Regions from separate parts of the Homo sapiens genome. Here region 1 is linked to region 2. The links come from fine-mapping of genetic effects on gene expression. A gene starts in region 2. The other region holds a variant in brackets. All regions are shown on one strand. Distances are from middle to middle.

Region 1 (5,375 bases), 30 kb after region 2:
CTTTATAGAGTTACGTTCTTTCCATGCATTAACCCATTTTACAGAAGAAGCAAATGAGACACAGAGAAATTAAGTCCTGCCCCAGGCCACTCAGTTAGTAAATGGCAGAACCAGGGAAATGTGATATGACACCGAGATGCGACCAACACTTGACACAGGCCCACATTCCTGGAACATTTAAAAGTGCTTTTGTGGCCAGTCCATGGGGCCAAGAGAGGTAGTTCCAGAGTAGAGTTGCTTTAAAGCTGGCATAGTGAGTGCTCCAAACAAGCTGTGTTCTTATTGTTGGATGAGCTGAGCTGACCACGCCCACACCACGTGCTACCTTAGGGGTTGGGAACATCTACATTAGCGAAGGCATGCAGGGCATAATCTCTGATTTAACTGCAAGAATCCACCATATTCCTGACCCTGGTTCCAATAAAACTTTATTTACAAATCAGACAGTCGGCCCGTGGGCGATAGTTTGCCAATTTGATTTTTAAAACCATCCCATTAAGATATTTTTTGGATTATTGAGTTTTTGGATGCCTCCTTAAATTTGTGCCTCACTTGCTTCACCCTAGTCCTAACCCAGCTGTCACTGACTGCCAGAGCCCTGATGGAGGAGCCCATGTTCTTACAAGGGTCTGCACCTGCTGTGGTTTGAATGTGTTCCCCGTATTTCATGTGTTGGAAACTGAATGCCCAACTTAGCAGTATTGAAAGATGGGGCCTTTAAGAGGTGATTGGATCCTAAGGCCTCTGCCCTCATGAATTGATTAATCCACGTGTGGACTAATAGATTAATGGGTTATTATGAGAGCAGGACTGGTGGCTTTATAAGAGGAAGAGAGACCTGAGCTAGCACACCCAGCCCCCTTGTCACATGATGCCATGTGCCGCCTCAGGTCTCTGTAGAGTCCCCACCTTCAAGAAGGCTGTGCCCCCACCAGATGTGCCCCCTCGACCTTGTATTCCTCCATAACAGTAAGAAATAAACTCCTTTTCTTTATAAATTACCCAGTTTTAAGTATTCTGTTAAAAGCAATAGAAAACAAATGAATGCAGCCTGAACCTCTTGGGGAACTAGGAGTCTTCCCTTGCGTCCTTTAATTCTAGGCACCGCAATTTCAATGGACTGTGCACTTTTCTGCCACCAGGGGTCGTAAGTTACTGTCATTCTTGGTGCGAACAGGTAAACCTCCCTTCACTTTCTCTCTTCTCTTCCTCCTCCCTCCTCCCTCCTTCCCCTCTTTCTTCCTCCCTTTCTTTTCTCCCCTTCTCCTTCCTCTACTTCCATCTTTTCTTCCCAAGTCCATGCCCCTCTCTCCCTCCCTCCTTTCCTTGAACGTGTTCATTTATTCACTCAACGCCACCTTAGCTGAGCACCTAAGTGTAGCAGGCACTGTGCTAATTATGCACCATGTAATGAGGGAGACGGACGTGAGGATGTCTAGTTCCTTCCAGTCTTAATGTTTTCATCCATTCTCTCTTCACTCACTCCTTCACTGGGTACTTAGTGAGCACATGGGCTGCGTCTGGCTCTTCTGAAGAAGCTGCAGGGATGACAAGGTCCAGCCGCGGCCTGGGAGGCCCTTGTCCTGGCCCCTTCCGTTCTTCCTTACTCAGCAGCCCAGGGGACCCTTTTAAAGCCAGAACATGCCACTTCTCTATTCACAAATGTGCTGGCTTCCCAGCCCATGTCTCCTTGTTTACCAGGTGCATGGCCTAGGATCCCCTCCTTGTACCTCTCTGAGCCTCAGTGTCCTCATCTGTAAAATGGACTCACAGTGGTGCTGCATGGTGGAGTTGCTGTGAGTATTGTCACTGGTCAGGATCCCCAGGAAGCAGACTCAGATACAGTTGAGCTGCCCTTGGGATCAACATCCACAGCATGGAGGACACAGGAGATGGCAGAGGACACAGGAGAGGGCAGAGTACACAGGAGCGGGCAGAGGGAGAACTGGAGCTGAGACCCAGCAGCAGCTTCAGTCAATTCTGCGGGAGCTCTGCAGTTGAAATGGCTCTTCAGAGATGTCACAAGATGGCCTGAGATGGCCAGGACTTTGCAGTCTCACATTATGCAGTCGTTGGGGGTGTCACGCCTGGAAGGGACACGAGCTCTGGCAAGGCCACTCTCTGCCTACTGTGAGTTGATCCCTGGAGGAGCTGACCACAGGAGCTGACTGCTGACCACTCTCCCTGCCTCTGGGGCAATAGGTGCTTCCTTAAGGGATCTGGGTCGCACATCCATGTCCACCACAAGCATCCATATAAGGAGGTACGTGGAGCAGTTGGAGCACTACCACAGTGCATGGCACATGGTGACAATGAGCAATATCATTATCGTGATGTCATTTAAGTGGCTACTATTTTTAGAGAACAGCAAACAGGTGATTATAATACAGCTCCATTTGTTCCCCTTATAAGCTAAGGGTAGACAAGACGCACTTTCCCACCTTGCCAGGCTGCCATTCCAAAGCTTCTGAATCAAAGGTCTGAGACTGGCCTGAGAATCTGCATTGCTAACAACTTCCCAGGTGATGCTGAGGCTGCTGTTCTGAAAACTCCTACCTGAAGGAAAATCAAAGTATGTCATCAGAAAAATAGGAAATGGATGCTGAGAGGGCAAGAAACAAAATACCATCTGCCATACCCATTTTACAGATGGGGGAGTAGAGGCTCAGAGGTGCTAAGCAACTTTCCCAGAGTCATCAGCCTGTAAATGGTAGAAATTGTGCCAGGCATTATTGCCTACCAAAAGTCACCCTCTTTTTTTTTTTTTTTGAGACAGAGTCTCACTCTGTCACTCAGGCTGGAGTGTAGTAGTGTGATTTCGGCTCATCACAACCTCCACCTCCCAGGTTCAAGCAATTCTCCCACCTCAGCCTCCCCAGTAGCTGGGATCACAGGTGCCCACCACCACGCCCAGCTAATTTTTGAATTTTTAGTGAAGACGGGGATATCACCATATTGGCCAAGCTGGTCTCAAAGTCCCGCCTCAAATGATCCACCTGCCTTGGCCTCCCAAAATGCTGGGATTACAGGCGTGAGCCCATCCCCCACCCCCTTTTTTTTTTTGAGA[C/T]GGAGTCTCGCTCTGTCGCCCAGGCTAGAGTGCAGTGGCTTGATCTTGGCTCACTGCAAGCTTCACCTCCTGGGTTCACGCCATTCTCCTGCCTCAGCCTTTCAAGTAGCTGGGACTACAGGCGCCCGCCACCACGCCCGGCGAATTTTTGTATTTTTTAGTAGAGACGGGGTTTCACCGTGTTAGCCAGGATGGTCTCAATTTTTGTATTTGTTAGTAGAGACAGGATTTTGACATGTTGGCCAGGCTAGTCTCGAACTCCTGACCTCAAGTGATCTGCCTGCCTCGGCCTCCCAAAGTGCTGGGATTATAGGCATGAGCCATGGCACCCGGCCTACCCTTCTTATTCCTTTTGGACAGAATCCCAATTAGTCTAGATATTTTTAGGCGAAGATAGCTTCATCTCAGGAAAGGTCAGATCGGTTCCTGATTAGGAATGGGCATGTGTATTAGGCCTTTTGCATTGCTGTAAAGAAACACCTGAGGCTGGGTAATTTATAGGGAAAAGAGGCTTAATTGGCTTACAGTTCTGCAGGCTGTACAAGCATGGCTCCAGCATCTGCTTCTGGTGAGGGCCTCAGGAAGCTTCCGATCATGGTGGAAGGCAAAGGGGGAGCAGGCAGTGTCCCATGGTGAAAGCAGGAACAAGAGAGAGAAGGGGAGGAGCCGGGCTCCTTTAAACAACTGGCTGTCTTGTGAACTAACAGAGCCAGGGCTCACTCAGAGATTACCACAGAGAGGGCACCAAGCCATTCACGAGGGATCTGCCGCCATGATCCAGTACCTCCCACCAGCCCCACCTCCTACACTGGAGGTCACATTTCAACCTGAGATTTGGAGGGGACAAACCTCCAAACCGTGTCAGCATGTGACCCTTTTCTGGCCAATAAGATACAAGAGCAAATCTGGGAAGATTGCTTCTGTGGAAGATTTTGCTTCTCCTAGAAGGTGAGAAGATGTAAGAATTCTCTCCCTGCTCTGACACCAGCACATCCCCATCAACAATGTCTGCTTTTCAATGCAATGGCAATAACCGGAGGTTCAGCAGCAATCTGGAGGCCATGAGGCCACCCCTGATGGTAAAGAGTCAATGAGAGGAAGATGTTGAGGTAGAGGGATGGGCAGAGTGTGAGTCTGTTCTTAGTGACCTCAGACCTCACTTTCTGGACTTATTATATGCACAGGTAAACGTCTCCAAAGCTGAAGCTACCATAAATCAGATTTTCCATCACTTGAAGCCAAAAGCATTCCTAACCAACACAGATAGAGACCCCAGGCCGCCAAAGCCATACTTGTTCATAGCATCTTGCTGCCTTTTACTGTCAGGTTAGAGCCTCTCTATTTAGATCAAAGTGAAGGAGACAGACTAACTCCAGCCCCTTCTTACCAAGGCCTGGGAGGTGAGAACCCGGCACTGAGACCCAGCCTATTCAAGGCCTGGCCAAAGTCTGCCACCAACTCCTTCTGTGAGTTTGGGGAAAATTCTAGACTTCCCTGGGCCTCAGTTTCTCCACCTGTAAAGTGGAAGATTTGATCTAGGTCCAGTGGGTGGCTGTAACTGTAGGCAGTTTTCTTGGGTTCACATAATGTTTGCTTTTTAGTTGCCAATGTTAAACAATTTCATATGCCAATGTTAAACAATTTCAAACATACATATGGATTGTTTCATATGTAAAAATCTAGACATCTGGCTTCTCTGGAAACATCGTCAGGAGATCTTGCCACACGGGACCCTGTTCTAACACCTCTTCTTTTAGAGGGGCCTGTGCTTTCCAATTTGCCCCAGTCTCCACTGCTCCCTATTGCTCTTTGGCTCTGAGTCACTGTTTGTCATCACGCTGGTCCCGTTGTTCTTCTTACAGAGGTAAGAGGAGAGTGAGATATGTCTTACTCCTCTTGTTACTTGTCCCTGAGAGCATTGAATTTGCAACCTTTAGATAAGATGGCATGTATCTTCCCCAGGGCCTCACGGGCATCCCAAAACTCAACAGGTCCCAAAACAAACCCCTGGTTTCACCCATAGTCTCTGCCCCCATCACAAGTTTCCCATCTTAGTAAATGGCAGCCCCAGGAATCCAGAACTTCACCCCAAACCTGGGGGCTCTCTTTGACTCCTGTCTTTCACCAGCTCCCCTCGCCCCCATTCGATCCAGCAAAAGATCCTGCCAGCTTTACTTTCAAAATATAATTAAAAGGTTGGGAGCGTGGCTGCCCTTGGGGGAGGGGCAGTGATTTGGAGGGGGCTTCTGGGGACTTCTAGGGGGATGGACAAGTTCTATTTCTTGAGCTTGATGCTGGTTATGTGGGT
Region 2 (5,375 bases):
CACACTGGAGGAAATCCCTTAATCCTCTAAGCCCCTCGCTGTGGAGGGCACAGCTTCCCCGGGACAGGGTCAGGGGGCAGGGGGAGGGGGGAGAACCCTGGTTTGGGATGCAAGTATCTCCAGCTGCAAGTCCTAGGCCTCCCGTTGGTGACACTAGAGTAGTGTCTCAACCAGAGGTCACAGAGCACTGGGTCCCTCCTGCACCAGAGACCTGCTGTGGCTTTCCCTGAAGCTCCAGGGAGAAGCCAGATGTGAAATTGAACTGTATGAATATCCTCTTGCAGATGGCCGGCTTCCAAATGTCCCAGCAATTGCAGCCACAGCTGATACTTGGAGTACCCACTATAGCCAGCCACTCTCCTAAGGGGCAGTATCTGTACCAGCTGGCTTAATCCCTAGACAATCCTATGACAATCACTATTGTCATTCCCATTTTACAGAAATAACCACCACACTGAGAGGTGAAGACATTTCCCCAAGGTGGCACAGTTTGTAAGTCACATAGCAGGAACTTGAACTCGGGCAGTCTGACTCCAGAATCCCAATATTGGGTGCAATATAAAATAAAAACTCACATTCACTCACCATTTACCAGATATAGGTGATGAGCCGAGCACTGTAATTCATTTTTTCACATCATTCTCATGGCTACCCTGTGATAAGGGTATTTGATAGTGACCAGAGAAGTTGGCAGACTCTCCCAGGTCAAAGTGGAATGGTGGAACAAAGTGAGAGGAATTGGGTCTAGAACCCAGTTCTGCCCCCAGAGGCTATAAAGAGAGCCCAATCCCTGGTCCCTGCTGTGTAAGAATTCTGGGGAGGACAGAGACCCGCAGCCATGACTTATGCCTCCCCCAGCACTAACACCCAGCCCTCGCTCTGCCCATAGAAGGCACTCAGCAAATGGCTGTTGGGTTGATTTAGCAGGAATAGGAGGTGCAGGAACAAGGGGCTAGGGCTAAGCTGAGTGTCCTTAAGAAGACCTTGACCTCTCTGGGCCTCATTTTTTTCTCAGGCTCTGGGGCACTGTGCTGTGGGGGTTAAGAGGATGGACTCTCCTGTCAGAGCCGGAACTGGTCACCAGTTTTACCATTAATCCACCATGACAGGCCACGTGGTGCAGTGGTTAGGAATGCAGACTGGAGTCAGAATGCTGGGGCTCCTTCCCAGCTTCTCCTCTCCATAGCTGTGTGACCTTGGGGAACTCACCTCACCTCTCTGGGCTTCCCCATCTACAAATGGGATATTAATGCCTACCTTCTATGCTTACCTACATCATAGCCAGTGTTAGCGACTGTGATTCTCCACAGAACGACTCAGAGCAAACTTTGAGAAGTTAATTCAGGGCCGGGCGCGGAGGCTCACGCCTGTAATCCCAAGCCGAGGCAGCCGGATCACGAGGTCAGGAGATCAAGACATCCTGGCCAACATGGTGAAACCCACTCTCTACTAAAAATACAAAAATTAGCTGGGCGTGGTGGTGTATGCCTGTAATCCCAGCTACTTGGGAGGCTGAGGCAGGAGAATTGCTTGAACCAGGGAGCTGGAGGTTGCAGTGAGCGGGATCACGCCACTGCACTCCAGCCTGGCGACAGAGTGATCATCTCAAAAAAAAGAAAAAAAAAAGAAAAGATAATTCAGGTCACGGCCCCGCTCCAGCTTAAAACCCTTCTCCAGCTTGCCGTGGCATTTGCAATAAAATCTGAACTTCTCACCACGGCTTACAAAGCCCTGCACACCTCTCTGCCATCCCTTTGACCTCAGTGCCCTGCCCGCTGTGCTCTGGCCATCCTGGCCTGGGCCACACAAACTCATTCCTGCCTGAGGGCCTTTGCACTGTTGCTGCCACCTGGAAGCTCTTTCTCCAGATCTCAGCAAGACCCGCTTCTGAGGAAGTTCTCAGCTCCAAAACGTCCTACTCCAGAAAACCCACCCTGACCACCTACCCAAGGAACCCACGCCCTTGGCCTTCACGCCACCCCATTTTATGGGTTCCACAACACCTTATCTCTCTCTGAAGTTATTCATAAACGTGTTTACCCAGCTGCTCAATCAGAATGCCACCTCCATGAGAGAGAGGTTTATTGTCTATTTTGTTCATTGCTGAAGCTCTAACCCCTATATCAATGTCTGGCACGTAGTAGGTGCTCACTCAAGAATCAACGACTGATCCTTCGAGGCTTCTGAATGCAGAGAGAAAAATAGAGCCCTAGTCCCGAGTGGCAACAAAGCCATTCCCCACGCGTCCCACCCCAATGCTGTGTTAGAATCTCCTTCTCTGTCCCCTCTCTGCAGAATCACGTCCAGAGGAGGGGGTTCGTCTGTTTTGTTCGCAGTTTCGTTCGCGACAGCGTCCCCAGGCCCACAACAGCGCCTGGGGCACAACCGCGCTCAGCGAATCGATGAACTGCTTTGCTTCTTTCGGAGCCTCCATTTCTTCATCTGCAGACCAGGAACAGCTGCACTTGCCTGGGGCTGTCGGATCAGGGCGCCCGGGAGAGTGCCTGGGCCCGAGTGGGCGCTGCAGCAAGTGAGGGGCCACTTTTCCGGGGCAGAAAGGAAGATGGAAGGAAGCGCGACCGAGCCCCGTCCCAGCCCCCGCCGCAGGCCTGCAGTCTCGGGCTGGCCACCCGAGAGGCGGTATCCGGCCGGGGCGGCCCTGGGGGAGCCAGGGGGCGCGCACTCTTAGGGGAGCGTGGGGGCGGTGTCTACACCCTGGGAAGGGGTCGGGCTTCCAGCAGGCAGCGCCCGATCGGGACTTACCCATGGCGAGCGGGACTCGGCGGCGTGCTGGGGGCGCTGAGGGGCCGGGCGCGCATCCCCCGCCGGAGTCCCCAACGCCGCTGCCGCCGGACAAACTTTCCGGCCCGCCCCCGCCTCTGTCCCTCCTGCCCTGCCCTCCCGCGCGCAGCGCCGCCAACGCCACGTCGGCCAGCCAGGCCCCGAGGCCTGGAGGCGGGACGGAGGGGAGCCCAGGACCGCCCCCGGCCGCCCCAGGCCTGGCAAGGACCCCCTCCCTCGCCCACTGTCCTCCCGGGGGCCCCCACCCGCCATCTCCCGGGTCCCCTTCGTTGGTAGTCCTCCCCTGGGGGGGACACACCAGCAAGCCATCCTCCCTGGTAGAAGACCCCACACGCACTGTCTTCCCCTGGCCTCTTTGCAGGGAAGAGGTGCCCCAATCACTGGTCCACACTTGTCTGGCCTCCCCAGCGTGCGCACACACACAACACACACAACACACACATCTACACCGAGTGAGACACTCGCGCATACCCACTGGAGCCGCTCACTCTCTCATGGATTCATCCCTCATTCACTCCACGCTTGGGTTTGGACACCACCACATACCAGGCACTACGCTAGGCTTGGGATGGGCCGAAGAACAAAACAGAACAGGTCTTTTGTTTACCTTCTAGGAGGGGAAGAGTTTACATTCTAGGAGGGGAAGACGAAAAAGAAGTAACTAAAGGATCCTGAGAAATATCAGCTAGTGATAAAGACTAGGCAGAAAGTTAAACTACGGTGGTGGGTTAGGCAGACACAGGTGGCTGCTTTAGCTTGCTGATCTGAGAAGAGGATATCTGAGCAGAGATCCGGCATTCCCCGCAGGGGGAACAGCAAAGGCAAAGGCCCCGGGGTGGGAAGGAGCTTATGGGGTACAAAAAACGCAGAAATGAAGCCAGAGTGTCTGGAGCAGAGGAGAAGACAGGGAGAGAGGAGGGAGATGGGAGCTAAGGGAGGGGCTTTGGTGGGCCAGGGTCAGGAATGTAGATTTCAACCCCATCAGCAGGACAGATAACTGGGGAGTTCTAACTGGTTAAGGGCCAGAATACTCAGCCTTCCCACCTGGGAGGCTGTTGCAAGGTGAGAAGTTGGTTTGGGCTCATGTCACTGTGGTGAGGTTGGAGAAAAGTAGGCAGATCACATATATATGCTCCGTAAGAACTTACAGACTGGAAGAGGGGCAGCTTGTGGCTGGGAAAGGAGATCCAGAGTTCTGTCTTGGCTGTGTGACATTTGAGGTGCTCAGCAGGCATCCACGTGGAAATAGGTGGGCAGTTGGCTATGAGCCTGGGATTCAGGAAAGGGGTAGGCTGGGGACACTGCCACTAATGCTCACTCAGGCAAAAATGCACGTACAAGCCCAGCACTCACATGGGCGCAGCCTTATCCAGCCTCTCAATACGTGTTCACAGATAGGCACCTTTGCATGTGCACCAGTGGCTGTACCCTCACCAGTCAAAGTCACAGCGACCCCTACCGTACAGGTGGATACACAGGCATTCTTCCATGCTGAAGGCACAAGCAGGTATCTCAGCAAAGATGACAGCATCCATAAGACCTCTGAACCAGGGGATCCTTGCACAGTTTCAAAAATAATAATAGCTGGGGCAGTTTGAAAACATGGCTCCAGAATTCGTTGTTCCTTCCCTTGAAATAAAAGTGGGCTTGTGACTGGTTTGATCAGTAGCCTGCAGAGTGACACTGTGTAACTTCTGAGGCTGGGTCACTGGAATACTGGTGCCTGGATCCCTGAGCCTTCATATAAAAAGTCTGATTACACTGAGACCCTCCTGGTATTCGTGGCCTAGTGGCATCCTCTTCTCTTCTAGATGTCACTAGAAGTATCACTTAGCAACGTCTAATGAATAGAAGACGGCAAATATGGTGGATGTCATTTTCGGATTAGGTTATAAATGATTTCTGTGTTGTTCAGTTTCGAGATCTCTCACTTGTTTGCTCTGATGAAGCAATTGAGCTGCCATGTTTTGAGCTTCCCAATGGAGAGGCCCACATGGAGCGAAGCTATTGAATCACATAGCTAATGCCTCCAGGCAATAACCAGTGAGGGACTAAAGCCCTTAAATCAACAGCCCCTAAGGAGCTAAATCTGGCCAACAAGCTTGTGGTGAGCTTGGACGTGAATCTTCCCTCAGCCTAGCCTGGAGGTGACTCTAGTCCTGGCTGACACCTTGATTTCAACCTTGCAAGATTCTGAGCTCTTGCTCAGAGCTAGAATTTAGCTATGCTAAATTCTTTATCCTAGAAGACATGAGATAATAAATGTTTGTTTCTTTAAGCCACTAAATTTGGGGAATAATTTGTTATACAGTGATAAATAACGAATACACATTTCATTATTGTTCATTATCTTGATTAGAAAAAGGAGATGGATCATCTCCAGGAGAAAGTAGAGATTAGGTTATATCTACATGGACACTAGGAGGCTTATCACCCTTGGCCTTGAATCTCTCCTCTGACCCTTGAACAGTTAACCATCAGAAGCTGAGAAATCGGTGAGGATGGTATCTAACTTTAATTTAATGTGATCTTAAGGGACTGAAAATGCCTTTGCAAAGATTAGAGAGCAAGAG

Evidence for each region. PIP is the estimated chance that this variant, and not a neighbour inherited with it, causes the effect.
Region 1: its variant is fine-mapped to the expression of SLC2A10 in blood mononuclear cells (TOPMed, PIP 0.96).

Annotation. Positions count from the first base shown.
Region 1 is chr20:46,677,302-46,682,676 of GRCh38, reverse strand. It overlaps a transcript of SLC13A3 not described here. Among named protein-coding and RNA genes, the nearest start is that of TP53RK-DT, 9.3 kb to the left of the region's middle. The variant C/T (reference allele first, on the strand shown) is at 3,068.
Region 2 is chr20:46,707,129-46,712,503 of GRCh38, reverse strand. It overlaps SLC2A10 (solute carrier family 2 member 10), which reads right to left and starts at 2,855. Exons shown (of 5, transcript NM_030777.4): 1 at 2,764-2,855. The coding sequence starts at 2,767.